Regions from separate parts of the Homo sapiens genome. Here regions 2 and 3 are each linked to region 1. The links come from fine-mapping of genetic effects on gene expression. A gene starts in region 1. Each other region holds a variant in brackets. All regions are shown on one strand. Distances are between the middles of the regions.

The links. PIP is the estimated chance that this variant, and not a neighbour inherited with it, causes the effect.
Region 2: its variant is fine-mapped to the expression of LINC01187 in naive CD8 T cells (Schmiedel 2018, PIP 0.91).
Region 3: its variant is fine-mapped to the expression of LINC01187 in whole blood (TOPMed, PIP above 0.99).

What each region holds. Positions count from the first base shown.
Region 1 is chr5:170,194,127-170,202,310 of GRCh38, forward strand. LINC01187 (long intergenic non-protein coding RNA 1187) reads right to left here and starts at 5,015. Exons shown (of 5, transcript NR_108022.1): 1 at 4,616-5,015; 2 at 3,626-3,703; 3 at 2,358-2,505.
Region 2 is chr5:170,218,750-170,226,933 of GRCh38, forward strand. No RefSeq gene overlaps it. Among named protein-coding and RNA genes, the nearest start is that of C5orf58, 10 kb to the right of the region's middle. RefSeq lists an enhancer at 625-1,824. The variant G/GAAT (reference allele first, on the strand shown) is at 4,630.
Region 3 is chr5:170,241,622-170,249,805 of GRCh38, forward strand. C5orf58 (chromosome 5 open reading frame 58) reads left to right here. Exons shown (of 4, transcript NM_001102609.3): 4 at 4,341-4,610. The coding sequence ends at 4,492. It overlaps LCP2 (lymphocyte cytosolic protein 2), which reads right to left. Exons shown (of 21, transcript NM_005565.5): 21 at 4,612-7,198. The coding sequence ends at 7,076. Among named protein-coding and RNA genes, the nearest start is that of C5orf58, 13 kb to the left of the region's middle. The variant T/A (reference allele first, on the strand shown) is at 4,955.

The sequences.
Region 1 (8,184 bases):
GTGAACTGCAGGACATCTCCAGCACCAAGGCATATTTTGTTCTAAATCTAATTGTAGAGAAGTCCTGGGTGGCCATGATGGCTCATGCCTGTAATCCCAGCACTTTGGGAGGCAGAGACGGGCGGATCACCTGAGGTCCGGAGTTCAAGACCAGCCTGGCCAACATGGTGGAACCCTGTCTCTACTAAAAATAGAGAAAATTAGCTGAGCGTGGTGGTGTGCGCCTGCAATCCCAGCTACTCAGGAGGCTGAGGCAGAAGAATTGCTTGAACCCTGGAGGAGGTGGTTGCAGTGAGCCGAGATTGCACCACTGCACTCCAGCCTGGATAATAAGAGCAAGACTCCAACTCAAAAAAAAAAAAAAAAGATCCTTCCTGCTGAGCTGAGCTGACTTGGCTGTGAGCAGAGGCAGAGTCTGGGAGGCACCCCAGCCTGAGCAACTTTTCTGGAACTGCATAGTGTTTGATGAAATGGATTGAAAACCCAATTTCCAGCTCTGTGCCAATTTGGGGTCAAATGATATATTTCACTTTTGTCAACGAGCTTTGCTTTTCTGAGCCTCAGTTTCCTCATTTGCAAAATGGGAGTGATACTTCCTGACGTTCTGGGCTGTCGTAAAAACTAAATAAGATAGTGTATGTCCAGGCCAACTCAGCATCAGGCACACAGTTAGCACTCACATATGTGACGTGAGAGGTGTGAGGCACCCTCTGAACTAAAACACTAAATCAAAAAACAGATACGGAGCTGGGCATGGTGGCGTGCACCTGCAATCCCAGCTACTCAGGAGATGGAGGCAGGAGGATCCTTTGAGCCCAGGAGCTTGAGTTCAGCCTGGGCAACATAGAGAGACTCCATCTCTAAAATAAAATAACATAACGTAACGTAACGTAAAGTAAAATAAAATAAAATAAAATAAAACAAAATAAAATAATTAAAGAAAAACAGATATGGGGAGGAGCTCTCTCTGGCTTTCCCTCCCGGCTCCAATTCCACAGCTCCGGAATCCGCACCTGGTAGACCCTTTCGCTCTGAACTCAAATGCCTGGCCTTATTCTGGCAGGGTTAGAAGCACAGGCTTGCGTTCTGGGGGATGAGTACAGGTAAGCCACTTCCCCGGGGATTTCACTGTAGCTTCTGAGCACATACAGATAGATAGTATCCTTATAATAATATTATTTATGCGGCTCTTATTATTTGCTAGTTACTTTCTTTGCGCCCTTAAGCAAGGAACTAAACCTCTCTGAGCCTCAGATTCCTTATCTAGAAATCAGAGAAAATAATAATGCTTATTCAGAGCGATTGTGAAAATAAAATTAGCTCATACATATAAAACAGAACAGTGCTTGATGCACAGCCAATTCAAAATGTAAATATAATTAACACTATAAATACATTGAAACAATATAAAATTAGTTGTTATTTGGCAGGCACTGCGCTATACACATATGCATGATTCTCAGAACAACCTTCAAGGTATCTACTATTATTATAATCTCATACAACAGTTGAATAAACTGAAAAGTGAAGTAAATATTGCCCTAGACCACTTGGCCGATAATTGGCACATCTAAAATTCAAAATTGATTGGCTCATTCCAAAACCAAGCTCCTAATTGTTATGTGCTCATCAGTGTGGAAGTAAGAGATTGTCAAATATTACTTCACACCCCCCCCCTTCATTAGTTAAAAAATAGACAACCACCACCTCAATGATGCCAACAACTACAAAACTCAACTCCACAGGACCCCTGTCATGCTACGAGCAGATGGCATCGATCCTGACTTTGCTGCCATGAAATCCCCTCAAGAGAGCCCCACATCAGGGGTCCTGAGTTTGCAGACAGTCATTAGAGACATCCTTGTTTGGGAAACAGCTGCCCTCCACCCTGATTTCACAGCTGGGGAAACAGGGCCTGGAGAGGAGACTCATCTGGTCCCCTCTGTTTTATGCCGCTCCTTTCTCTTGCCAGTAACACCACACCATGGAGCTTTGCCTCTCGGGGCCCATTCATCTCAAATCCTTTTTCTGATTAGCTCACTGTGCTGCCTGCCACCCAGGTTCTCATCAGAGCACTCACGGGGCCTTGGCTATTTAAAAATTCTGTTAACTCGAGAAGTCTCTGCCACTGCCCCTGCCAGCACCAGGCTCACCCATGTTTGGCTTTTGCATTCTGTGCTTCCTAATCCCATTTCTGGGGCTTAATTATGATTACACAGCTTTATTATGTAGAATTGATTTTAAGTAATGGCCCTAATTAAGAGTGAATTTTAATTAAGCTTAATTCAGAGCCTGCCTCCGATTGCCAAAGATTTGCAGCCTGAGAAGAGGAAAGGCTGCCCGTGCACAAAACTCACACGTGACTTTGATCTTCATGCTGCTGGACTGTTGCAGCCAGATGGGTTTGTACTATTTTCTGGCCTCAGGGTGCATTTCTTCACCAGGGTGCAGGAGGTATCAGCTCTAGTCCATCTTCCCCTTCCATGCAGAAGCAAACTCGGAGCGCTGGCAATAAACAGAAGTGGGGATCCTGCACCTTTGGGGTGAATATCAACTACACCACCCACCCTGTTGTAGAAAATGAAGCTCATTTGCTTCCTTCCAACTGCTCATGAAACCTGTTCCACAGGTGAGAAAACTAAAGCTCAAGAAGGCCACGGCACACACAGGCAGCGAGGGCAGCAGGAAGATTGGAAATCAGCTCTGCTCCCAATGCCTGTGCCCACTCTGTTCCAACACAGCCTTCCAGTAAGTGGCAATCATCTCTGACTTTGGCAGAAACCAACCTGCTTGAATTTCCTGCCTGCCCACCTAAGCCACTGCTTCCCCAACTTTAGAAGCTCATACGCTGTGAAGGTGGGTCTTTTATGTAAGAGTGAAAAACATCTCAAACCAACTTGTTTTCAAACGAAAATTTTTTCCTACCTTTAAAACTGCTATAAAGCAAAAGTTGTCATAAAAATGTTAAAAAGGAAATAAAACAATGTGATTAAATCCAAATCAGAAACTATTACCTTCTAAAGCCCTAGGAGTAAGGCTTGATCTGCCTGACTTTAAAAAACAGAGATGAGAAGATAGTTCGACCACAACAGCACCAAACTGAGACTTTGTCCCTAACATAATCGGAAAGACCGAAAAAGAGTTGGGAGGACATTGTGTTGCTCCGTGATACAGTGTTATTTAAAGTCGTGTCCAGGTGTCAGCTAAAATCGACTCTCCTTTGTCCAACATTTTCACGGACACTGATCCAAACCAATTTAGCACAGGTTTCCAGGGACCTCTGGGTAATAATGCCCCTCAGCTGCCCTACAGATGACAAGATTCTGGACAGAAACCCAGCTCCCCTAACCCACAGCCCTGGCCCAAGGACAAGATATGGGCATTCCTTTGGTGTTTCAAATAAAAACACAGTGAAATCAATATGTTCTCCAAGACCGGCTGGTGGAGGCTGTTCACCTGCGGAGAAGGGGCCTGGTCATCCGGTTCCTGAATGCCTTTGCCACACTAGAATGTTTTATGGTTCTAAAGTTCCCACCTTAGAAAATCACCCACTAAGAAGCCAAGCTCTGAAAACGTTTTGATTTTTCTAGAGGGAAATGGAAAGTGAAAAATGGAATTCAATTACCTTGAAAAGGGGCAATTTCACTCACAACTGTTACACTTAAAAGCTCCATATGAAACAGGCATTCAAATAAGTCTCAGCCTAAGTTAAAAGAAAAAGGGGAAAAAGAAAATCATGTATTAATCCTCTTCCCTCTACTCCTTCTGACCTAGTGAGTCTTCCTTAGACTCAAAAAAGATAGATGGACTTGAAACACGATTAAATAAGCATGTTAGGACTTTAATAATCCAAGCCGCAGGAGTTTCTATTAAAAGTTGGGTATTTAGAAGAACCATTTGGTTAACCAGTCTAGTGACACAGAAACCACCATGTGAGGGAGGCTCTTCTGAGCAGAGCTGAAGCAGGGACTCCCTGCTTTTCTCTCAGAGATTTGGGGGTAAAGTTACCATCAGACCCTTCAGTTCAGCTGAAAACTCTGAGATGCCCAATACACTCCCATTTTCTACTTCAAGGAAACTTCACTAAAACAGAGGAAAAGATAATAGCCTTGATTGAAATAGAAAGGCGTTACAGAAACTGACACCAAACAACACAACAGACATCATCATCCCATCATAACCATGACGCGCTCATTCTTTCTTTACATCTTCATTCCTGCTAGGTCAAGGCAAGCCGTAGAAGTGGTTTTGTGACCACCATGATGGTTTCCCAAGGCAAATTTAGACAGCATATTTTCTCCTACCACAAAAAACTCCAGCCAGACTCTCCAGTGGTTGAATTCCTATTCCTCAAGTTACCAGCTGTGGAACTCTGTGCCTCAGTTTCCCCATCTGTAAAATGGAGATAACAGTAGCATCTACCTCATAAGATTGCTGTAAATATTAAATGAGATAGTGCTTAGCACAATGCATGGCACATAGCAAGCACTTGGTGGCCGATCAATGGCAAATACGAACACTGGCTCGAGCTTACTGCCATGGTTTATCTTAGCAGCTCCTGACTTGCCTGTTGAGAAAAAATGCTCCTAAACTCAGAAGTATTCAGAAAACCTACAGCAAGGTGGTGAGAGACTAGACTCTTCAAACCTCTGAGGTGCTTTTCTGTCCTCATTCCAGTTTTCTGCCCATCACATTGGCCAAAGAGCTCTAGCCAGAGTTGAAGCCAGTGCTGATCACTTTCCTGACAACCTGGCTGGCAGAGATGGGACCGTATGTAGCACAGGGAAGAGGTGTGTTTTCAGACAGCTTCCTCTCGGAAATCCATTTTGACTGTAGATCCAAAGAAAATCCTTCCAGGCTTCTTGTGCACACGCCAAAACCTGCACACATGTATGCATTTCTTCCTCTCTGTGCATCTCTCCTGCACATCTGGGCAAAAACCAATCTCTGCAGGTAGCATCTTGTGCATATAGCTGTCCGGCCCTATGATAAAATGCATTGTTTCTCTCTGAGTGAAGCTTAATGCACCTCAGCCTGGGGATTTATACTAAGCAATAAAATCCACAGGATAGAGAAATGCAAATAGATTGTAGAATATAATATTATCATTGTCAACATAAAAGACTTTTATTTACTGCCCCCCAAAAGAAAATACACCATAGTGTCGTTTGTTTCAGGGAATGCAAAAAAGGTTTCAACAACTAACAGGGCATGTTTCTGAGCAAAATATACCCCGTATATAATGTTGGAACACATATTGTCAGTGGCCACTCGTGTGTCTGTGTTCTTGCAAACAAACCTGTGGAATTGAGTCATGGAAGGTCACTTCCAGCCACCTCTCTGAGCCACACGGCACCTACCTGGCTCTGTTCACAAACAAACCAGACAATATAGACCTATTTGAAGGGAGAGACCCTCTGAGGCAGGCCACACTCCATCAGCACATCTTAGAATGAGGCATTTGAGTAGTTGCTGACTTGGCTTACTGGGGAATGGAGTTGTGGTGGAGGTTGATTAAACAGATGGTCCATGTTGCTTTGGGCAAAGGGAAAAGTTAAAGAGAAGATGTAGCAGAGCACATGGGAGGTGACAACTCCATCTTTTCTCTAGAAGATATCCCTACAACTCCCCCTTAATGCTCAAGGTCATTCCACCAATGCTTTTGTTGCACAGGGTATTGACAACTTACAAGACCAATTATTTTCACTGATTTGTTTGAATGATAAGTCTGTTGTTTTGTGTAGGGGTTTGGCTATGATATCAGACCCAGTCACAGCAATTGTTTCATTTCTGTCTACAAGGGCAAGATCTAAGTTTATAAGGCTTTAAACAGCCATAATTACCTGAATGACATTTTATGTGAAAAATATATTCTAACTGGTTCTCCCAATAGCCCTAGGAAATATACCCTAGGTGTTATTACGGCCAATTTACAGGTGAGAAAACCGAGACTTCAGAGAGGTGAAGCACATTATCCATGGCCACCCAGCCTGTAGGAGGGTGGCTCCAGAGGCCTCAGTCCTGAGCCCGAGCCTGTCCTGCTTAAGCTTACATCAGGAAAGCCCTTACGTGGCCTGTGCTGGGTGCTCTGTCATGGGGACATCTCACAGGTTTGGTAGGTTTTATCACTCCTATTTTACAGGTGAGGAAACTGATACTTAAAAGAGGAAAAGTGTCTGCCCAAGTCACACAGATGTATATAGCTTGACTGGATTCGAACCTAAGTCCTGACTCCACCGGCTGTGTGGTATAAAAGGAGAGCTTGAAGGTGTCATCATTATCCCCTTTACAGGCCACCACAACCCCTATCACTGAGGGAGTTTTATAAGTTTCAGCAACCACATCAGTAATCTCATTTTGCATCCACAAATTTCTATTTTGTCCTTGCAGCTCACTTGGACAGGGAATGTCCCGCATGTTTGAAAAGATGGTTCAGAAAGGAGCCTTTGGCAATCCCCAGGGTTTCTGCACCCAAGATGGACTGGAGGGATCATGACAACCAGTTGCAATCAAAGAAAAGAGGAAACCATATCCGAGAGTGGAAGCTGTTTTCTTGCTTTCAGGGATCAAATGTCATGACCCCCCAACTCAGTCCTAATGCATCCTCCACAGACATACTCTTGAGCTCTCACAATCCACCCTTCAAGTCATGATGGGGCTCAAGACCTTCACTGGGCTTCATTATCACAGAGCAAACAGGGTGAAGAGGACTCATTTATTGAAGCAACAGATATTGGTGACCAATGAAATTGATGACCACCATGACCTAGGCTGGGCATTCAGTGGAGAGTAACACAGGCAACTTCCCTGACATCTGGGGCTTACAGATAATGGAGGAAACACAAAAGAATCAGATAAACAGATAGGCCAGACCAGAGAGTGCTAAGCAGACATTAAAACAAGGAAGTCAACATCAAATGCAGAGCCCAGAGAAGCCTTCCTTGGAGAGGTGACACTGAGCTGAGGCCCGACTTGCCCTGGAAAGACCTTGGGACACATTCCAGGAGGGAGGGTGCTGAGCCCTGGAGAGCTCTGTTTTGGGCAGTCACTCTCATCAGAGTTTCCATGATGACACAAAGGTCACATGGATGCCCACAGTCTAATTTCAATCAACAATGAATCATGGCCACTCTGGGCACACCAGCACCCCACTCCCCAAACCTCCACCACACCCACCACACCTACAAGGGCCGTTTGTTTGACCAACAGAGAAAAGATTATTCCAAAATACACTTGGTAAAAACATCCATGGGGAGGGTGAAGTTTCTGGTTTCCCCTTTAAAGAGCTATCATCTTTGGATGTTCAGAGCTTCTCACATGATAGCACCTCCTGTAAGGGTTTTGCCCCTGTAGTTAATGTTCAGAAAGTGTGTATTTCCCTTTTGAGAATTCTGTATGAAAGGGACACTGATAAGGGAAATGGAGGCCTTATTGCTAAGAAGCTAGTCAGCATTTGCAAGAGGAAGGGGAACTAGCATTGACTGCACACTTCCATGCACCAGCGTTGAGCTGGATGCCTTACCTGGTTTATCTCCTTCAATCCCAGGAAGAAGGTATGAAAAGCCCCACTTTTACAACCTAGGACATTAGGTCTCTGAGAGGCAAAGCAACTTTCACAAGATTATACAGCAAATAAGTGACAGAACCAGAACTAATTATATTACGTTTATTACATGAATCGAATTTGGTGATTACTTACTAGGTTCCAGGCACCTTGCTTGGTGCCTTCAGATCGTGCATGATTTCACTGACTTCTCACCACATTTCATTATATTACTATTCCCATCTAGCAGATGGGAAGACTGAGGTTCAGGGAGGTGAAGTAGCTTGCCTGTGGTTGTTCAGCTCCAAGGTGATAAAGTCAGGATTGAAACCCACATATGTCTGATGCCCTCTTTTTTCAGAGAGGCTGATGTCAAGAGAGGGAACCGTGGAAATGTTCCATATTAAAGGAGATTAACGAGGCATGACTACTAAACGCAAAGCCTGATCATAGACTGGAAACTGAACTAAAGGAGAAAATGCTATAAAGGATATTTTTCAGTCAACTGACAAAATTGGAACGTAAATCATAGATCAGATAAAAGGAGTTGTATCAGTTTTGAATTTAGACTGTTGATAACCCTACTGTGATTATGTGAGAGAATATCTTTCTCTCTAGGAAGCTCATAGGGATTCAGGGAT
Region 2 (8,184 bases), 25 kb after region 1:
CACACTTTGAGGAGCAAGTATTTGAGAACCTCAGTGAGACACCGACTGTATCTGTGTCTGGAAGAATAAGAATAAGTGGCATTCAGCCAGGAGACAAGGGGAAAAGAGCAGGCAAGGAAAGCATTGAAGGCAAAAGCAGAGCCACATGAAGCAAGCTGGTGTATTTGGGGACTGGCAGATGGCTGGCTGGGTAGGCTGGAGAGGTGTGAGAGAGAGGCTGGCAAGCAGGCAGTGTCTTGGAGGGCTTTTTCAGCTATGATGAAGAGCTGAGCAGTAAGAACTGTACCAAGCAGGCCCTAAATGTCAAAAGTACCTGCCAGGATCATTGCTCTCTTGTGAGTGTTATGAAAGCAGCCAGGGGCTGTTCTACCTGCAAAAACTGCTCTGTTTTGCCCATCTGATTGCCAACCTCAGCACACCTATTCCAAAAAAGAAAAAAGAGAGAGAAGAAAGAGAAAGAGAGAGAAAGGAAGGGAAGAGAAGAAAGTGGGAGGAGATGGGAGGGGAGGGCACACCAAATAAACAGAGCCCAGAGCTCCTCCTGAATAGCCTTTGACACATTATTTGGATGAACCCATGGGTGGGTTTTTGTTTCTTTTTATCAGGCAAATGGAAGTTTCACTCAGTTCCTCAAAAAGTGCCCAGGCAGGTAGAGAGCATCCATCTGCGATGGGTTCCCCTTCCTGGAAGCCACAGCACCATCCAGCCCCACAGTAGGTGGATGCAAATTCTTGGCTGAAATGAATGTGAGCTCAGCAAGATGATCACCGTGGTCCTGACCATCATCATTGTTGCAGTGGAAATTATCCAGGAAAAATCCAGAAAAAGAAATAGCATCCAGGGCCTAAGGGTGTGGAGTTGAAATATAACCTTTACTCTCACCCTGAAAAGAGCTTTGGAAGGGACTGTTCAGTTGAGGCAGCCACCAACTGAGCCACCAACTCAGTTGCAATGAGTCATTTTACAGGCTTTGCAGTAAATTGTCACAGCTGGGCTGTGAATGTGGTCATCCGGACTTTAGATAATCAACCAGTGAGCTTCTAGATCCTCTTGAAGCTCACATTCTGGAGGACAGAAAGGCAATAAAAAGCAAATATATAATAAATGAAACACTTCCTGATTGTGGTAAGTATCAGGAAGAAAATAAATGGGGTGATGAATCAGGGAATACTGGAGGAGTGACTCAGTCACTGTCCCAGCAGAAAAGAGAGGGCACGCTCAAATTGGGTAATTTATTAAAGAGACAATTTACCATGGTGTGGGCAAGACTGGATAAAGGAGAAAGTTATGAGGAAGCCCCTCCCCCCACCCCAAGGCTAAAAACAGTAGGGCACCATTGCTCTCTCTAGGCCTGAAAGGGGCACAGGGAGAAAGCAGTGCCCAGAAGATGTAACAAGAGGACATTGGAGGGCTGTTCGACAGGAGCCACAGCCATCAGCAGGGATGGAGTAGGAGTAACAAATGGGACCAAACATTAGAGATGTCATTCTTCCCCCGGGGTACCCACCAGATGCTGCACTTCCAGTGTGGATTTCTCTGCATACACAGCTTGACAAAGCCAGGTTAGGGAGACGAGATGGCCCAGCTCACAGTAGAAGTGGTTGAAGATTCCACTATCATCTCACATTAAACAGACACTCTTCAAGTGCAGTTGCTTTTGCAGACACCCCTGGGACTCAGATGAATGCAAAGGGGCCATTTGCATACCAGAACAGCTTAGCACAGATGAATTCTCTTCCATCTTCCTTGTCAGGCTGCAGGGAGGTATGCTCTAGACCTTGAGAAATGACCTTGGGCAAGCCATTTAATATTTTCAGGCCTCAGTTTCCTCATCTGTAAAAAGAGAGCATTAGGCTTAGTGATTTCTAGGTACAAAATTATGCTGTGTAGAGGAAGAAGCACTTTGAAGCAGGGGGAGGTGAGTTCAAATCCTCTATACCTCAGCTGGCTGGCCAACCCTGGGAGCACCACATCTCTGGGTCTTAGCTCCCCTACCTACCAATGTAAGTGATAACGTCTATCCAGACCAATCACAGCATTTAGACAATGCATGTTAAATCCCTTGTATTTTGTGCAACGAGTCAGAGCTCCACACATGTCTATCCATTTGCTGCAAGGCAATGTAACATAAAGGTCAAGAGAACAGGCTCTGAGTGAAGTACACAGCATGGGTTTGAAACCAACTGCCTCTACCACTTTCTAGTCAGGGACCTTGGGCAAGTCACTTAATACCTCTAAGCCCCCACTGTTTCATCTGTAAAACCAAGGAGAAATGCTGGCTGAATCCACAAGGTTGTTGCCAGAATCAAATTAAATAATACATATTGAGCACTTAGAACATCTTCCTTCAGTTACGATATTCTGCAGCTGTAATATAACATTACAAAGAGCTTTCCAGAATGTTCTCTGATTTTTTTAGTTCTTTTAATGCAACAAAGTTACCTGGGATTGGTTAAATATGGTGTTGCCAGAATTTTCACTATAATGGCATTGCACCCAGAAGCACCTAGCCTAACCTTGCTTTGCCCTGGGTGGCCAGCATCCAAGACGGCAGACTGTGAGAGCGGCTGAGGAAGAGCACCAGAAGGAAAGATCTGCGCAATCAAAGGCATACTGACCCCAACTCTCTGCATCCCAATATATTGCCCTAACTGCTTTTTTAGCCCCCTAGTGTGACTTGGTGTGAAGCACAAGCAATTCAAGTGATTAAGAAGGGAGTTACTAATTTAAATGAATAGCTTTGGCAAAATGAGCTCCTCGAAGAGCTCTGAGGGAGATAATGGGGCCTTGTGTTTGGAGGCTAGAGTCAGGATGGTTGTTTATGGCGCTCTAGGGCCAAGTATTGCTATAGCAACAAACGACTTAGCAACTGTATTGAACAGACTGTTTCTTTGAAAGAGTTTACATAATAGGGATTACTCGAGTTCTTTCTGGGAAGGATAACATTAGTACTTTTTTCTCCCCTTTTCTTAAACCTAAGAACATTTGGACGCAAAATCCTTTTTCAAAAGCTGTACAACAAAAGGGGGGAAATGACTGAAGGTTTTGAAATAAAATGTTAGCAGTTACATTCCTTGAGTGGAGAGATTACCAGTAATGTTTTTGTTTTTCTTTTTGAGTGCTTTTCTGAGACTTCCATGATGGTTTTGGTTTTGTAACTAGGATTAATTTCCATTAAAAGAAACAAATTGACCAGCCTGGGCAACATGGGAAGACCTCATCTCTATAAAAATTTTAAAACTAAAAAAATTAGCTGGGCTTGGTGGTGCGCACCTGTGGTCCCAGTTACTCGGGAGGCTGAGGTGGGAGGATCACTTGAACCCAGGAGGCTGAGACTTCAGTGGGCCATGATGACTCCACTGCACTCCAGTCTGGGTGTGAGTGAGACCCCATCGCAAAAATATATAATAATAATAATAATAATAATAATAATAAATTGACTATGATAAAATATAAGCCTGGAAATGTTAAGAGGGTGCTTGTGACCCAACAAGGATGGGGCCTGGCCTTGGTGGAGGAATGGCCCTTGGGGGACTTGCAATACTGTGGCGGGCTCCTGGCATTTGCTGGCTTTGTGCTGGCTTTGACTATGGGAAAGCACCCCAAAGGTTAATGAGTGGCCTGGCCAGTTGGCACCTGGCTGACGTGAGAATTTGAATCCTGCTGCCCTTGGGATGGGGGAAGGGAGGGAGCCCCACCACTGCCCACTCTCCCATTTCACCCCCACTTGACCCTGCAGCACCTATGGAGCCACTAGGGAAATCAACATCCTGTTAGTTTGTGACAAGTGGGCCTAGGATAATGGAAAAGAACAGGCAGCAGTTAATACATGACATGAGGGTTTGCCCAGAGAGCTCATGGCTTTGGAAGAAAATAAGAGTTGAGAGACAGCCAGGATATCTATCTTTACATTGTGAATTTAGTAATTCATGAAGATCTTAAGACGCATTTCTCTAAAATGCTTTTTCCAGTGATCATTATAATTGTTTTGTGGTTGGGAATTGAGGGAGCAAGGGAATTTCAGGGGGAAAATAATCTAAGCAAAACTTTCAGCATGTATTTCTTGAGTTCCTTCCGAATACAATGTATTGATTTGAAGGAATTAATTCACAGTTGTGCAATCATAATATGACAAACTATGTTCATAAACAACATAGTACATATAATGGTTAAAAGCCACAGGTTTGGGATCAGACTTGCATCTGAAGCCAGTACTGCAATAGCCAGCTGTGTGATCTTCAGCCACTTGCTCGAGCTTATAGAAATAGGCAGTGCAGCTGGGATTTGAACCCATGCGTATATTATCCCAGAGGCCTGGATCCCTAAGTCAAACAGTTTTGGAATGGAAAGATTTGTGGCTTTCTGGGGTGTCCACAGTCTCCTCTCCTCCATCTATGTGATCTGTCTTGCACCAACTGCAGTTCTAGCCGGAGAGTGTTCTGCCTGCTGTCTCGTGCACCTGAGAACCTAGGCTTAGGGACACTTTTTGTGTTTAGGCTCTCCCATCTGTCTCCATTTCTAATTTTGTCAGAGCCATGAATTAAGCTGGAAACAGATCCAATTTATTAGTTCCATTCCTGCTCCATGATTGTGCCCAGAGGCTCGTAGACACACACTGTAAATCACAAA[G/GAAT]AATAATAATAATAATAATAATAATAAAGAGCTCTCTGTTGAAAGCTGCCTTAGGGGACATCTGTCAGCTTGTTGAGGACCCCCAGAGAGCCAACTTCCTCTTTCCTCCTTCCAGAATAAACCACAAGAAGAGGAGTCAGTAAGTGAGGGAAACTTTAAGGTCAAGTGGAGACAAATTCCCAGCCCCATCCACTTTCTTGGCTAGCCATAAGCATTCTTATCCTTCTTTTCTACAAAAACAGGAAATTTATATATTAATGTGCCAAGCCCTTTGCACAGATCAAATGCAATCCTCCCAACAGCCCTATTAACTAAATACAGCTACTCAAATTATCCTCATTTTATGCATGAGGACACTGAAGAGTTACAGAGGATAAGTAACTCGAGGATGCACACCTCATTAATTGAGGAGCTAGGATTTAGATCCAGAGCCTCATGATTCTAAAGCCTGTTTTTTGTTTGTTTGTTTGTTTGTTTTGTTTTGGCCACACTAGGTTTCTAGAAACTTCCAGTTCCTTCTTAAAAGTCCTTTTTGGGCATTCCGGCCTAAATCCCAAAACTGTGGTCTGGGTACAAGAGAGAATTAGGCCAGTGAGAAAAATTTAAACCACCCTGCCCTCTAAATGTCTGTCTTCTTTCGGAGACTGGTGAAAGTTTCTCAATCACTCAGCAAGTAATCTCATTGTGAGCCAGGCACGGAACTAAGCACTTGCAGAACAGAGGCAAACTAGACACAACTGCAGGCCTCAACAAGCTCGGTCTAGTGGGAGAGGCAGATTGGAAAACAAACATGGCAAACCATTCGAGGTAGTCTCAAGAATGGAGGGGATAGATAACAAGATGTAGGGAGAGGAGTTTCTAAGCAAATGTCCTATGCAACCCTAGAAACAATATGGAGGAATAGAAGGCTGTGAGAGGAAAATAAGATCTCAGGGCCCCAAATTCACTGTGCCAAAGGGAAAGGGCTCATCCTGGAATCTGAGTCATGAACAAAACAAAAACAAAAACAAAAAACAAAAGCAAAAACAAAAAACAAAAAGACCTGCCTTTGCTTTTGTTTCTAAACTGATAGCTACAGATAGAAGGTTGCATGTCTCCACAGAAGGCCTTCCTCACCCTGACAATGTAAATCAACAGCTTATCTTCATGGGTATGGGACAAGAGGAGACTAGAAATTGTCCCCACTCCCCATCCCAAGACAAATGTGCATTTGATTGACTGCTTCCTCTACTCCATGTTTACTTTATCTTATGTAAAGTGCAGATTTACTGAGCATGAGACAAACATATAATTGACTATTTCCTCTACCCCCTCCTTTTCACTACAACGTGTGGAATGTGACCATATCCTCCCTTTATTTTCTCTTTCCCCTTTCTCATCCTACCCATTTTCCCCTTTAAATATCAAAGCCCTCAAAATTCTCTTTGGAAGAAATAGGGCCACAGATCCGACTGTGGCTTGTGTCTCTTTTTCCCCATTGTGTTCTCAACCTTGGCAAAATAAACCTCTGAACTGATTGAGATCTGTCTCAGATACTTTTTGGTTTATAAGGCATAAGGCCCAGCCATTTCCCAGCTGAGTAATCTGGAGTCCAACCCTGAGTCTTTCTGAGTCTCAATTTCCTCAGGCATACAATGGGAATATGAATTGTTTCCAAGGCTCTCACAATTAAATGAGATCATATAGGCCATGCTTAGCATCCCATTCTTCCATCACCAGGTGTCACCTATCACGGAGTCTGTGCTGATTCTACTTCTAAACATTTCTGTAATGTCATTTCCATCTCTTCTGCCAACATGTTAAACAAGGCCCCATCATCTTCCCCATGGATGACTGCAATACACTCCCAACTGGACTTCTCATATCTATTCTTTCCTCCTGTCCAATCTGTTCTCCATTGTGAAGCCAGGATCACCTTTTTAAACTCCAATTATGAGCATACCACCCACTACCTCCCATTCGTCACCTGCTTAACACCCTTCAGTGGCTTCCTACAGGCATCAGGAGAGAGAATGTAACCCTCTGCATAGCATGGTTGGCCCCTGCTCCCTCTCCAGCCTCATCTCACCCTGGGTTCCCCCTCACTCCCTGCATCCCCGCCTTGCTGACATTCTTTCAAGCTCTCCCATCTGCCAGGATGCCTCCTGACATGAGGGCCTGAAATATGCTGTTCCCTCTGCCTATCATGCTCGTTTCTCCTTCTCATCTCAGCCCAAATGTTCCCTTTCCAGGGAAGCCCTCCCTGAAAGCTGCCCCAGCCGTGTCACCGTCCCCACTGGGACATCCTTCCTTCCTTGATAGCTTCTAATTGAATCCTCACTTAATATGCATTTGTGTGATGTGTGGATTCCAGTCTGTCTCCTTCACCAGACCATGAGCTCCATGGCTCACCCCTACATGCCTCAAACTTAGCATGGTGTCTGATACACAACAGATGCTCAAGAAAGGTTTGTTGTATGAATATTAAATGCATGGCACTTGGGAAGTTTATAAAATTGTGACTTCCTTTTCCCTTGTCTAGGGCTTCTTATATATGAAAGTTAAAAAAAAGTGTGTTTTTGTTTGGTGGTTGTTTTAATGAAACATTATTTGTCAAAGTCTCCAACAGTGCAGATCCCTAAGATTTCCCTTTCTGCAAAAGATGGCCAGCAGAGGGCCCCATAGGAGCAATTACTGAAGTCAGGTCAGCGAAAACAGCAGCTGCTGAAAGATAGCCGATCCTGTGCCCAAATCTCTGGCAGTCCTTGAGCAGCTTGGAGAGAACATCACCATCATGGAACCCTGGCCCACTATGTCCAAAAACTGTTTGATCTGGCCTCAAGAAACAGGAGTTCATAAGGCAGGAGATCAGAGCCCTGCGTAGACGGTTTTAATGCAAATCCCTGCTTGTTTCTTGAGTTGCCAGTTTCACGCTTAAGAATTTGTAGTCAAGAGCTCGCACAGTTGGGTAGAATCACGCATGAGTGTTAGGGGAGATTTGCTTTCTTTGGGGGCCACTTTTCGTTTTCCAGTCAGTAGTTTTATTTCCATTTTAATTTTCCGAGCATCTGGCCCCCAGCAACAGCCTGTGGTTTGGAATTCATGGCTCTGTTGTGTGTTTACGCACTACACTTGCTTGTAATTGACAAATTTAAATTCTGGTCATATTTCATTTATTACCCAGACCCAGGGAAAAATCCTAGGCGAAAACCTAATTACAGCAAAAGTGCCACAAGGTAATTGCTGTGAAAGAACTCCTGCAGCAGCAGGGCTGAATATTTCATCCACCCATAAAATGATTATGCTGACAAGATTCTGAAAAATAATAAAATCTGTTTAATAAAAAAGAAGCAAAATATCAGTGTTTTTACACACAAAGTATTAAAACATTCTTCATTTTGGACAGATCCTAAGTCATTTGATTTTTATTCAAATGATGATCCACAGCTGAGATAGTTCTTTTATCAGAAACCGGGGTTGGGTAATCCCTCCCACATGAGGCTGTGTGGAAGCTTCCAGGCCTGCAATGGCCTTCTGGAACAGTACTGAATCGGCTTGCCACTGCTCTATTGGATC
Region 3 (8,184 bases), 47 kb after region 1:
GATTTTGTATCCTGAGACTTTGCTGAAGTTGCTTATCAGCTTAAGGAGATTTTGGGCTGAGACGATGGGGTTTTCTAGATATACAATCATGTCATCTGCAAACAGGGACAATTTGACTTCCTCTTTTCCTAATTGAATACCCTTTATTTCCTTCTCCTGCCTAATTGCCCTGGCCAGAACTTCCAACACTATGTTGAATAGGACTGGTGAGAGAGGGCATCCCTGTCTTGTGCCAGTTTTCAATGGGAATGCTTCCAGTTTTTGCCCATTCAGTATGATATTGGCTGTGGGTTTGTCATAGATAGCTCTTATTATTTTGAATTACATCCCATCAATACCTAATTTATTGAGAGTTTTTAGCATGAAGGGTTGTTGAATTTTGTCAAAGGCTTTTTCTGCATCTATTGAGATAATCATGTGGTTTTTGTCTTTGGCTCTGTTTATATGCTGGATTACATTTATTGATTTGCATATATTGAACCAGCCTTGCATCCCAGGGATGAAGCCCACTTGATCATGGTGGATAAGCTTTTTGATATGCTGCTGGATTCGTTTTGCCAGTATTTTATTGAGGATTTTTGCATCAATGTTCATCAAGGATATTGGTCTAAAATTCTCTTTTTTGGTTGTGTCTCTGCCAGGCTTTGGTATCAGAATGATGCTGGCCTCATAAAATGAGTTAGGGAGGATTCCCTCTTTTTCTATTGATTGGAATAGTTTCAGAAGGAATGGTACCAGTTCCTCCTTGTACCTCTGGTAGAATTCGGCTGTGAATCCATCTGGTCCTGGACTCTTTTTGGTTGGTAAACTATTGATTATTGCCCCAATTTCAGCTCCTGTTATTGGTCTATTCAGAGATTCAACTTCTTCCTGGTTTAGTCTTGGGAGAGTGTATGTGTCGAGGAATTTATCCATTTCTTCTAGATTTTCTAGTTTATTTGCGTAGAGGTGTTTGTAGTATTCTCTGATGGTAGTTTGTATTTCTGTGGGATCGGTGGTGATATCCCCTTTATCATTTTTTATTGTGTCTATTGGATTCTTCTCTCTTTTTTTCTTTATTAGTCTTGCTAGCGGTCTATCAATTTTGTTGATCCTTTCAAAAAACCAGCTCCTGGATTCATTAATTTTTGAAGGGTTTTTTGTGTCTCTATTTCCTTCAGTTCTGCTCTGATTTTAGTTATTTCTTGCCTTCTGCTAGCTTTTGAACATGTTTGCTCTTGCTTTTCTAGTTCTTTTAATTGTGATGTTAGGGTGTCAATTTTGGATCTTTCCTGCTTTCTCTTGTGGGCATTTAGTGCTATAAATTTCCCTCTACACACTGCTTTGAATGCGTCCCAGAGATTCTGGTATGTTGTGTCTTTGTTCTCGTTGGTTTCAAAGAACATCTTTATTTCTGCCTTCATTTCGTTATGTATCCAGTAGTCATTCAGGAGCAGGTTGTTCAGTTTCCATGTAGTTGAGTGGTTTTGAGTGAGATTCTTAATCCTGAGTTCTAGTTTGATTGCACTGTGGTCTGAGAGATAGTTTGTTATAATCTCTGTTCTTTTACATTTGCTGAGGAGAGCTTTACTTCCAAGTATATGGTCAATTTTGGAATAGGTGTGGTGTGGTGCTGAAAAAAATGTATATTCTGTTGATTTGGGGTGGAGAGTTCTGTAGATGTCTATTAGGTCCGCTTGGTGCAGAGCTGAGTTCAATTCCTGGGTATCCTTGTTGACTTTCTGTCTCATTGATCTGTCTAATATTGACAGTGGGGTGTTAAAGTCTCCCATTATTAATGTGTGGGAGTCTAAGTCTCTTTGTAGGTCACTCAGGACTTGCTTTATGAATCTGGGTGCTCCTGTATTGGGTGCATATATATTTAGGATAGTTAGCTCTTCTTGTTGAATACATCCCTTTACCATTATGTAATGGCCTTCTTTGTCTCTTTTGATCTTTGTTGGTTTAAAGTCTGTTTTATCAGAGACTAGGATCGCAACCCCTGCCTTTTTTTGTTTTCCATTTGCTTGGTAGATCTTCCTCCATCCTTTTATTTTGAGCCTATGTGTGTCTCTGCACGTGAGATGGGTTTCCTGAATACAGCACACTGATGGGTCTTGACTCTTTATCCAATTTGCCAGACTGTGTCTTTTAATTGGAGCATTTAGTCCATTTACATTTAAAGTTAATATTGTTATGTGTGAATTTGATCCTGTCATTATGATGTTAGCTGGTGATTTTGCTCATTAGTTGATGCAGTTTCTTCCTAGTCTCGATGGTCTTTACATTTTGGCATGATTTTGCAGCGGCTGGTACCAGTTGTTCCTTTCCATGTTTAGCACTTCCTTCAGGAGCTCTTTTAGGGCAGGCCTGGTGGTGACAAAATCTCTCAGCATTTGCTTGTCTGTAAAGTATTTTATTTCTCCTTCACTTATGAAGCTTAGTTTGGCTGGATATGAAATTCTGGGTTGAAGATCCTTTTCTTTAAGAATGTTGAATATTGGCCCCCACTCTCTTCTGGCTTGTAGGGTTTCTGCCAAGAGATCCGCTGTTAGTCTGATGGGCTTCCCTTTGAGGGTAACCCGACCTTTCTCTCTGGCTGCCCTTAACATTTTTTCCTTCATTTCAACTTTGGTGAATCTGACAATTATGTGTCTTGGAGTTGCTCTTCTCGAGGAGTATCTTTGTGGCGTTCTCTGTATTTCCTGAATCTGAACATTGGCCTGCCTTGCTAGATTGGGGAAGTTCTCCTGGATAGTATCCTGCAGAGTGTTTTCCAACTTGGTTCCATTCTCCCCATCACTTTCAGGTACACCAATCAGACGTAGATTTGGTCTTTTCACATAGTCCCATATTTCTTGGAGGCTTTGCTCATTTCTTTTTATTCTTTTTTCTCTAAACTTCCCTTCTCGCTTCATTTCATTCATTTCATCTGCCATTGCTGATACCCTTTCTTCCAGTTGATCTCATCGGCTCCTGAGACTTCTGCATTCTTCACGTAGTTCTCGAGCCTTGGTTTTCAGCTCCATCAGCTCCTTTAAGCACTTCTCTGTATTGGTTATTCTAGTTATACATTCTTCTAAATTTTTTTCAAAGTTTTCAACTTCTTTGCCTTTGGTTTGAATGTCCTCCCGTTAGCTCAGAGTAATTTGATCGTCTGAAGCCTTCTTCTCTCAGCTCGTCAAAGTCATTCTCCATCCAGCTTTGTTCTGTTGCTGGTGAGGAACTGTGTTCCTTTGGAGGAGGAGAGGCGCTCTGCGTTTTAGAGTTTCCAGTTTTTCTGTTCTGTTTTTTCCCCATCTTTGTGGTTTTATCTACTTTTGGTCTTTGATGATGGTGATGTACAGATGGGTTTTTGGTGTGGATGTCCTTTCTGTTTGTTAGTTTTCCTTCTGACACACAGGACCCTCAGCTGCAGGTCTGTTAGAATACCCTGCCGTGTGAGGTGTCAGTGTGCCCCTGCTGGGGGGTGCCTCCCAGTTAGCCGGGTCAGGGGTCAGGGACCCACTTGAGGAGGCAGTCTGCCCGTTCTCAGATCTCCAGCTGCGTGCTGGGAGAACCACTGCTCTCTTCAAAGCTGTCAGACAGGGACATTTAAGTCTGCAGAGGTTACTGCTGTCTTTTTGTTTGTCTGTGCCCTGCCCCCAGAGGTGGAGCCTACAGAGGCAGGCAGGCCTCTTTGAGCTGTGGTGGGCTCCACCCAGTTCGAGCTTCCCAGCTGCTTTGTTTACCTAATCAAGCCTGGGCAATGGTGGGCGCCCCTCCCCCAGCCTCGCTGCTGCCTTGCAGTTTGATCTCAGACTGCTGTGCTAGCAATCAGCGAGACTCCGTGGGCGTAGGACCTTCCAAGCCAGGTGCGGGATATAATCTCGTGGTGCGCCGTTTTTTAAGCCGGTCTGAAAAGCGCAATATTCAGGTGGGAGTGACCCGATTTTCCAGGTGCGTCCGTCACCCCTTTCTTTGACTCGGAAAGGGAACTCCCTGACCCCTTGCACTTCCCAAGTGAGGCAATGCCTCGCCCTGCTTCGGCTCGCACACCGTGCGCGCACCCACTGACCTGCGCCCACTGTCTGGCACTCCCTAGTGAGATGAACCCGGTACCTCAGATGGAAATGCAGAAATCACCTGTCTTCTGCGTCGCTCACGCTGGGAGCTGTAGACCGGAGCTGTTCCTATTCAGCCATCTTGGCTCCTCGAGAGCATAAATCTTATTTTAAGTCAGAATGGGACACACTTAAGTTGTGGTTTGATCACTAATCACTTGGAAATTAGGAATTAGGAAGAAATAGCTACTTAAAGCAATAATAGTTTTTTATGACATATGTGCTACAATATAATATCTCCTGTTTTGTTTTGCACAGAGCTCTCCCAGTTATTGCTTTGTGACCTTATCCTACATTTTAATCATCCCATCAAGACTGAGAACTTAGCAGAAGCAGAAAGAAACAACCCCCTCTTTGAAGAGTCTAAAATATCAGATGTATCCCTTGTTTCTAACAGTTTTTCTATCTGATTTCTTATTTGTTATGAGTTTCTGTTTTATTGTTGAACTAACAAATATTTGGGAGAGTTGAGTTTACTAATTTGTATATATATAATTTAAAACAAAATAAAAATAATGTAAACAAGCAGTTCATGTTCTTGAAGGCTGTTTAATGTTTTGAAGAATGGCTTAACTTACGTCACTAATGGCAAGTGTATGACATAGGAAATTGGCCATGGGTCACTGCTTATCCTTTAGCTTATGCTTGAATTTGGCTCAGGTTGAAAGAGAGCTACTAAATTATTAATTGATGGAATGAGTTTTTATTAATCAGAACTCTCCTGGTAGTGAACGCCAAGCACAACTCAACCAGCTGAAGCATTTATTGAGTCATGTGACTTGGAAGCACATAGTTGGAATAGATTTCAGGGATCCCACTAATTTGTCCATACTTTTACTGTGTTTTTGTGTGTTGGCCTCGTTGTCTTCTAT[T/A]GTAGACTGGTTCTTCCAGATAATTGGTAAATGGGAGTAGTTGCAGGGCAGCAGGCAGCTCCAAGTGTACAGCATTGCCTTTGGGGACCCCAGATAAAAGAGAGATCTTGTCTCAGGCTTCATGTTTAACATTCCAGAGAGTGACCCTGATTGACCCAGCTTTAGTAAGATGTTTATCACTGAGCAGGGTTCTGAGCAACTGTGACTGATGCACCTGGGGTCATATAGAAGGTCTGTGGCCAAAAGAGGCAAGGCCCAGCCAAAAGGAGTTGTCGGTGCTTGAACAGAGAGAGAATGCTAGTCATGAAAACATTAGCTTCCCAACATTGATTTCAGTCATAGCCATGGAACAGAACATCTTAATCCTGATGGCACTTTCCACTAATAGACTTAAAATGAGCTTTGGTTTGTTTTATAAACATGATTCGCTACCAAATAGTTGCTTTGAAATCTATCAGGTCCTTCATTTTAGATATTTTTGAATTGTAAAGATAGAATACGGCAAAGCAAGACAAGTGGAGCTTACTCGATACTAGAACCTATGGTGTATGCTATCCTTACTACCTTGTACCTAGCTCACTTGTTTAACACAGAAGAGCCACTAAGTAAATACTTGCTGAATAGCCCGTTGTGTAGACGTGTAAATGAATGCAGGGTTTTCAGCCTTAAACTCCCAAGTTTTGGACCCTAAACTGAGAACTTCTGGTTGTTAAGGATGAGATTTTGTGAAACACCATTTTTATCATCAGTTAAAAGTCTCTACCTTCTGCATACTCCTTATTTTAACATATCATCAGTTTTAAAATGGTGACTTCTTAGATTCCTTCCAATACCCCTTTTATTAGCTCATGAAAATGAAGCTGCAAGATACTCTTTTCCATTTCGAAAACTTGTAGATTAAGCAGAGACGCCAAAAATTGTTGCTAATAAAAGTTGTGCAATAACAACCAAGGTCCCAAAGGGAAAAACTTGAAGAACAACTGATTGTCACTATTTGGCTGAATACCAGTTTTTTAATCTGGCTGAATGCCTATATTTTTTGTTAAGTGATATTTGTAAACTGGAGGAAAGAGTTTAATTACCTCAAAGCACTTATACAGCCTGTTTGGGAAGGATGAGGAGAAGGGACTTTATGGCAGAGCTGTCAGGGGGATAACAAGAGACAGAAGAGCCATATCTAATAGGAAAGTCTGATCACATTTAATCTAAAGTGTTGCTCCCTCGTCTTCCCAGGAAGCCTTTGGTAAAATCTATATCCCTGGACAATGCTTTTGGGGTTGGGAGAAGGTTGGTGGGGGGCTGTGATGGTTGGTGTGGGTGTGGAGATGTGAAGAAATGCCAACTTAACCCCAGATGTGTTCATTAAACCTAGACCCACGATACACCAAAGTCTCATCCCTAAATTTAAAATGTTTTCTTTTGGTATTTGTAGTTTAAATTTTCTTTAAGACAAAAATATAACAGTATGGACTAAAAGTCAATAAAGTTGTTTTAGGAAACCAAAAAAGTAAAGCAAAAGACTATTTTAATCCCAGAAGTTATCTCAACATGCATTTGTCTTTTCATAAAAAAATTACGTAAAAATGCCCCCAGGAAAAAATACTAAATAAGAGTGAAATTATATTTTTGAAGCCTCTTAAATTATTGCTGCTGAGAAAACGAGGTTTAGTGATTTTCAAATTACATGTATAAAACTAATGAATGCCTCTGACTGACAGAGGTTTGGCTGTAAAAAACAAATCAGTTTTATGTGACACCAATAACTATTACTGTTTCAGTGTTTTAAAACTTGCCCCAAATTGTTTCTGTAGCTGTGTAAACTACTGTATTTTGAAATGGGCATTAAATAATCTTTTAAAAAATGAATTATTACAGTGCACTACTAGACTTCAAGTGTGAACATGACTCATGCACTTTACAAACATTGAAGAAGAATAAATAAATTATGGGATAGTTGACAGTCTTCATTTCAAACACTGTTTTTAAAGGAAAGGATAAAACCCTTGTGTTCATGGGGAGGGGTTCAGTTCAGTCCTAAGTGTTTGTCCATTGACCAAGGCTGATTGATCTCGTGTTGGCAACAGAGGCAGGAGGACGGTTCATTTGCTCGGCTATAACTTGCTATGGGTACCCTGCAGCATGCGTTAATGTGCACTGGTATCTGGAACCTCGGTTTTTCCCATCAATGAGCAGAAGTGGCATTTTCCTGAAGTAGTCAATAATATCTGACACAGACAGAAAGTCCTGAAAGAGTCAAGATAGGGAGATGAGTCAACATTGGAATGAAAAGCAGGAACTTCACTTTCAGTTTTTTTATCTGCATAATATATGCTGCCTCTTCAAGTGATGAGGATTGTGGGGGGAAAAAATGTAAATGTGGCAATTAGTTTAATGATTTCTGCTATAGAACTTTGAAAAAATTCCTCATAAACATCCAACAAACCATAGATAAAGATAAAATATGGGCCGGGTGCAGTAATTCACCCCTGTAATCCCAGCACTTTGGGAGGCTAAGGCCGGTGGATCACCTGAGGTCAGGAGTTTGAGACCAGCTTGACCAACATGGTGAAACCCTGTCTCTACTAGAAAATAGAAAAATATTAGCTGGGCGTGCTGGTGTGCGCCTGTAATCCCAGCTGCTTGGGAGGCTGAGGCAGGAGAATTGCTTGAACCTGGGAGGCAGAGGTTGCAGTGAGCCGAGATTGCGCCATTGCCGCACTCCAGCCTGGGTAACAAGAAGGAAACTCCATCTCAAAAAAAAATAGATAAAATATGTGCATGCGTGTGTATATATATATATATATATCTACATATCTATATATATATATATGTAATTTGAAATGCATATATTTTTAACTTCATATGAAGGGGTCATTTAAATAGTCACTATTACAATATTCTTGCCTCGGGTTGCTCTGTTTTTGGTTTTGGTTTTGGTTTCTGCATCTCTATTTCACCCCCAGTCATTAATAGTGTTAGGAAACATAAGGACTCAGGAGGTCAGACACGGTTCATGGTGTCTAGAGGTGGGATCTGCAGCATGGCACAGGAGTTCCTTCATGATCTCTCTGCTGTGTCCTCACTGCCACCTTCACACTCATAAAGGCTCAGCAACCAATATTTGCAGCCATAGCCTGGATCGCCCCAGCCTTGATTGCTTGCTAGAGAGGGAAAAGCCTAACTCATTTTTCTAGATGTGGGTCACAACTCACCTAGGAACCCTAACAGGA